2 separate regions of the Homo sapiens genome follow, and region 2 is reported to be linked to region 1. The links are microRNA targets in miRTarBase. Many come from high-throughput screens and were not tested one by one. Region 1 holds a microRNA gene; the other region holds the end of a gene's coding sequence.

Region 1 (3,231 bases):
CTGAGTGTCTATCAACTGGGGAAGATATAAACAAAATGGAATAAATGCAGACAATGAAATATTATGCAAATGTGGGAAGTTTATACAACATAGATATATCTGAAAACATAATACTGAGTGAAAAAATAAGCATTCTTACTTTCTATATAGTCTATATTACAGAGATTTATCATTTATGTAAATTAAAACAAACACACACAAAAATAATATATAATTTTGTAAAGACATTCATTTTAGTTCTAGCATATTAGGTGGTTCTCTGAGGAGGGAAGGAAATGGGTGTAGGGAATGGGGGGTGAAGAGGAACAATAACAAAATAAGAGGAGGGTCTTGCATGGCCTTAGGGTGACAATAAGCTATGAACTGAGCAGTATGCATAACTCAACTCCATATCTGAGGGCCAATTAATTCTTTAAACATTGTTGAGTTCTTGTACAGATTAAACCAGATCTATAAGTCAAACTTCTGGCAATGTAGGAGGTGCTCAACACCTATTTGCTCCCCCTGTGGCTCTCAGAAAATGTAAAAGGGATGGGGTTTTCTTTTGCTTCTCTAATAATTTTATAAGTGAAAATATGAGTCTCAAGAGAATGAGGTAAGAAGAGTAGCACTCAGATATGAGTGTAGAAGGCTAGTTCTCCACCCTGGGTGCATATCACAGTCACCCAGGGGATTCACAGAAAATTCAGATAATCAGGCCCAATCCACTCGTTCCCTCCCCCAGTGACAATGTGTATCATCATCTCTAAGGGCAGGAGGAATAGGGGCCAGGGCCAGGGTCCACAGTACATTTTGAAAAGCATTAGCCTTGTGCTGGAGGGTCTGTCTGTCCGCTGTGCTCTCAGCCACTCATGTTCTTTGGATTGTTGCTTTTGAAACTTTCAAGGGCTTTTGCTAAATAAAGCGTCACCAAACTGCTCAAAAAGAAATACATTTCAAAATATATGATTAGTGTATACAGTATGGTACCCCATCTGCTCTTCCAAAATACTTGAGTTTTAGAAAATAATGTGTAGACAGGTCTATAAATTGCTACCTCCCACAAAACAAAGTAGACTCACTTTAAGGGGTAAGGAAAAATATTTTTTTTCTTTTGGTTTACCCATAGCAAGAGAGTTAATCTATAAGAGCAAGCAAGCATGCCTTCATTCATTCATTCATTCATTCAGTCAGTCAGTCAGTCAGTTGGCACTTGGGCTAAAATAAAGTACTTTATTCTAGGGATGGTTCAGCTAACTTATAGGAATTTAGCATCCATAATAAATAGAACTTGCACAAACGTAGCAACTTTTCTTCTCACAGCTCAATATTCAAGCAAGTAAATATGCACCTTGGGTTGCAAGATCCTAGAAGGCAGAGAATGTAACTCTGTTGAATGTCACTATGTGCTCCATGTTATCCAGCATTTGGTTAATAGTGACTAGGATAATCGTTCATGTCTATTACATTTCCCACAGCATATAGCATCGTGTGAGTCTCAGCCTTTTCTAACACTGCTCAGATGCTGGCTGAAGACTTTGGGACTTCAGGCTATCCCTGACAAATTCCTGAACCAATCTCTCTGGCAAGTGATTGAGGCTCAGAATGGCTCAGGAGAAGTAGCATAGTAAACTAGGAAGAATGTGGGCTTTGGGGTCACAGAACTCTGGATTTGAAACCTGGTTCTCTCACTTATGGGCTAAGTCTCTTCATCTGTAAAATGGGATAATGGCATCAACCTTGCTGGGTTGCTATGATAATTAGATAATGTACACTCAGTGCCTAGAACAGAGTAGGCCTGGCAACTGTGGAAGGGAGGCTGCTGCCAATCAAAGTGTGTTGCTGCACACTCAGTATCAAGTATCCTAAAAGAAGCTCTGATTCCCCATTGCTCATGAAACTCTAGTTTGTATTTCCAAGCTCTGTGATCGATGCTGGGCTCACGGGGAAGAGTTTCTGCAATCCAAAGCTCCCATCAGAATGGGAGCCCTTCCTGAACCCTATTGCTAATGTGACTGCAAATAAAACAACCTGTCTAATCATTTCCATCTCCCTTCCTCTGATTCATTTAAGGAACGAATCAATGCCTTAATTATGTGAACCATTCAGAACTATAATGTGTCACGACTGGGAACGCCCTATGAGATGCCAAAAGCCCCACCCCTTTTGACATCAACAGTGGCCTGGATCAGGGATGCTTTGGTTCTTTCCTTTGGGCACTCTACTCTGGAATGATGTCCAATCACTTTCTTCTGCAAGGGCCAACCTCACACTTTATCCCTTCAGCCTGGCCACTAAGACCCAGCTCTTGCCTCTTCTACTCTGGCTAATATGCCCCTTGGCCAGGCCACCACACAGTCAACTACAGGGCTTATGAACTACCTGAAAAATATTTGCTGAATAGAAGTCAATGAGTATGTGAAAATGAATGAATGAGTGAATGAAATAAGTTGCTTCTCATCTCTGAATGAGATTTGGATTAATTGTTTCATTGGACTGTTGCCCCATGCAAGCAACTATCATCTGGCAGTGCCTCTGGAGGAAGAGGCTGACCTCATATAGCTCTAAATATGAAGTCCAAACATATAGTTTATGTTTCCTAATTCAGCTGATTTGTGGATATTAAAAACAACTGCCACAATGTCCAAAACTAGATGGTTCTTTAAAGTTAATCACAACATGGTTTTTGGTTTATATTCTAAAACATAATCTCTCACCCAATACATTAATTTACATATCCACATAATGAAATTCATGCATATATATGTGCACATATTTTAATGAATCTAAATAGATCACTATAGTTTTATGCATGAAAGGCTTTTAAAAAAATCTGGCATAAAACATAGCCATATTAAATCCCTCTCCAACATGGTAATTTAAGAACAGAATTTTCCATGTTGTTTTCTACTGCTGATTTCATTTTCTACTGTTAGACTGACCACCTTGTGTCTCCTGAAATGCCGTCTTGCTTGAAAAGTCCTTCTTAACTCTCCCACAAGTCACTCTCTTCTCTATGAACCCCAAATCCTTTTTATAGGTCTCCATGAGCAGTGTCAAGGTCTTCATCTATGGTCTGAATGTTTGTGTCTCCCCACCAAATTCATATGCTGAAATATAGTCCCCAGTGCAATAAAATATTAAGAGGTGGAGCCTTTGAAGGGAGAGGATTAGGTCATGAAGATTCTGCTGTAATGAATAGGGTTACTGAAGTTATAAAAGAGGTCCAAGGGAGCTTATTAGTCCCTTCCA
Region 2 (3,000 bases), not on the chromosome of region 1:
CATGCTTTATTTCAGAACAGATTTTTTTTTTTTTTTTTTTGAGGTAGAGTTTCGCTCGTTGCTCAGGCTAGAGTGCAGTGGCGCGATCTCGGCTCACTGTAACCTCTGCCTCCCGGGTTCAAGCAATTCTCCTGCCTCAGCCTCCCGAGTAGCTAGGATTACAGGTGCCTGCCACCGTCCCTGGCTAACTTTTTGTATTTTTAGTAGAGATGGGGTTTCACCGTGTTGGCCAGGCTGGTCTTGAACTCCTGACCTTAGGCGATCCACCTGCCTCGGCCTCCCAGAGTGCTGGGATTACAGGTGTGAGCCACCGCGCCTGGCCTCAGAATAGGTTTTTTGGAATTCCTTGTTAGAATAAAAATGAGTATGTCACTTTCTGAACACACTCTTCTTTCTTACAGGCAATCTGTACAGAAGCTGGTCTGATGGCCTTAAGAGAACGTAGAATGAAAGTAACAAATGAAGACTTCAAAAAATCTAAAGAAAATGTTCTTTATAAGAAACAGGAAGGCACCCCTGAGGGGCTGTATCTCTAATGAACCATGGCTGTCATCAGGAAAATGGTTGGGAGATTTCTCAATCCCTGAAAGGGATGAGGTTGGGGGAGTTGCCCAGAGGAATCCCTGTTCCCACTGATTTTTATTAGCAAAACATCCTGTGTCTTTTGGAGTACGATGTGTAAGTGCCCATTGGGTGGCCTGTTGGTCACTGTGCAGCAGTCTGCTTCCCAATAAAGCGTGCTCTTTCACAAACACTTCCTGTTTCTGCAGTCTCCACACACACCTACCGCTCAACAGCAGCCTGTGGGTGGACCCAGCTACAGGGAAGCCTTTGGACAGGAACTCAGGCTGCGGTCCCAAGGAGTGTGGACCTCACTATGCGTTCGCCACATCACACCCCCAGAGCTGGCGTTCAACGGTAATTACAGTGGGAAATGGTCACTACCACAGAGCCAGGGATATTCGTTGTTTAAATAATAAAGGCTGCGTTAATGTGGCTATTGCTTCCAAAGGAAGTACAGCTTTCCTTTTTGGAAGTTTTGTGGACCATGCATGTTCTTAGCACTCTGAGGGCAGAAAATAACTACTGGTGTTCCCAAGAGACTGAGGATTCCTAGAGATATCTTGAAAGCCCTTCTGAGCCCTTGGGCTCAGAAATCTCATCCCTTTCAAGGTGTTCAGAAACATGTCAGAACTTCCCCTTCCCTTTCTCCGTCTATTTCCGTCATTTCTCTTTCTGAACAAATCAGGCCTAAAGCTATTAAGTGGGACAGATCAAGGTAAGCGTTCCCTTGACAGGTGGCCTGGTGTGGGTTGTAGGGCCCACACTGAATGAGGAGTGTGTATTAGTTTTCTGTTAATACTATAACAAGTTACCACAGGCTTTGTTTAAAAACAGCACAATTTGGCCAGGCACGGTGGCTCACGCCTGTAATCCCAGCACTTTGGGAAGCTGAGGCAGGCGGATCACAAGGTCAGAAGTTTGAGGCCAGCCTGGCCAACATGGTGAAACCCCATCTTTACTAAAAATACAAAAATTAGCTGTGCGTGGTGGCAGGTGCCTGTAGTCCCAGCTACTCAGGAGGCTGAGGCAGGACAATCGCTTGAACCCAGGAGGCGGAGGTTGCAGTGAGCCAAGATCCCGTCACTGCACTCCAGCCTGGGCGACAGAGCAAGACTCCGTCTCAAAAATAAATAAATAAATAAATAAAAACCACAATTTTATCTCAGTTCTGTAGGTCAGAAGTCCAACACGAGTGTCTCCAGGCTAAAGTCTTGCTGTTGGCAGGACCGTTCCCTCTGGCGTCTCTAAGGGAGAATCCGTTTCCTTGCTGAGGATTATTGTTGGCAGAATTTAATTTCTTGGAGTTGTGGGCCAGCTGAGGTCAGCATTTCCTTGCTGGCTGCCAGCTGAGGCCTTTGCCAGTCTGTGAAGGCCACCCTCCCTCCTGACTCGTGGCACTTCATTTTCCACCAGCAGCAGCAGGCCCAGTCCCTCTCTCCCACCGACCCTTCTTTCTGCCTGCCTTTTCTATTCTTATGGATCCTTGTGATTGCATTGGACCCATGCAGATGATCCAGGATAATTTCCCTGTTTTAAAGTTTACAATCTTCTTAATTTTTATCTGCAAAGTTCCTTTTGCCATGTAACATTCACACGTTCCAGGGCTTAGGGTGTGGCCATCTTTAGGGGCGCCACTCTGCCTACCACAGAGGACATCCACACGTGGGGGTGGCCCAGTGCAGGGTAAGGACGGGGTGCTTGTGGGGAGGGCGGGTGTCAGCCCAAGTAGGGTGTGGAGCTGTCCATGTGGAGGAACACCACAGCACGGGGACTCAGCATGGGCAGGGTGAGGCTGGCATCCGTGTGGGGTGTATGTGCAGGGCTGGGGTGGTCCGATAGGGGGAGTCAGTGTGGGCAGCCTGATGTGCAGTATGAGAGCCCAAGTGGGTGAGGAAGGCATCTGCAGGGACGGGGTGGTGGCAGGGGAGGGAGGCTGCTTATGTATGGAGGCAGTCAGGCAGGTAAACAGGACAGTGGGAGCCAGGTTTCTCTGAGGAGTTAGACACAGAAAGAAGAAAACAAGAACGACCTCTGTCCACTGGGAGCACCTGGGAACAGTGACACCCCAACTGCAGTGAGCACCCCTAGACCCAGACCTTTGCTGCTAAAAGTATTATTCTCCACTAAAAGGAGTGAGGGCTGATTCCGGGGCTAGGCAGGGAAAGGACAGGATGAACCCAAAGTCTGTTTTGCCAGAAAGCAAGGGAGTGCTCAAGGAATGATAAGGACATGTCCTAAGGACACCGAAGCCTATGTGAAGGGGCTTCCACTGGCCAAACTCGGGACAATCTGAGCATCCTAACAAACAGTTACTATTAATGGAATACAGTATAGCCCTTTAAATAGGGAACTACACACACACACACACACACACACACACACACACACACACACACACACACACCCCAATACATATGAATTGATCTGAAAGTTTGC

Evidence for each region. Region 1 holds the annotated microRNA hsa-miR-1200 (CUCCUGAGCCAUUCUGAGCCUC, at 1,575-1,596, opposite strand). A microRNA usually pairs through its seed, bases 2 to 8, with sites in the 3' UTR of a target mRNA and lowers its output. Matches are read on the target gene's strand: a 7mer-m8 pairs with bases 2 to 8, a 7mer-A1 pairs with bases 2 to 7 and ends in A, and an 8mer does both.
Region 2: the mRNA of PSMC1 is a reported target of hsa-miR-1200. Seed matches in the 3' UTR shown: 7mer-A1 at 553-559 and 7mer-m8 at 1,577-1,583.

What each region holds. Positions count from the first base shown.
Region 1 is chr7:36,917,829-36,921,059 of GRCh38, forward strand. It overlaps MIR1200 (microRNA 1200), which reads right to left and starts at 1,604; the gene lies at 1,529-1,604. All of the region lies in intron 16 of ELMO1 (engulfment and cell motility 1), which reads right to left.
Region 2 is chr14:90,271,872-90,274,871 of GRCh38, forward strand. It overlaps PSMC1 (proteasome 26S subunit, ATPase 1), which reads left to right. Exons shown (of 11, transcript NM_002802.3): 11 at 402-3,000. The coding sequence ends at 536. NRDE2 (NRDE-2, necessary for RNA interference, domain containing) reads right to left here. Exons shown (of 14, transcript NM_017970.4): 14 at 1-3,000. Among named protein-coding and RNA genes, the nearest start is that of PSMC1, 17 kb to the left of the region's middle.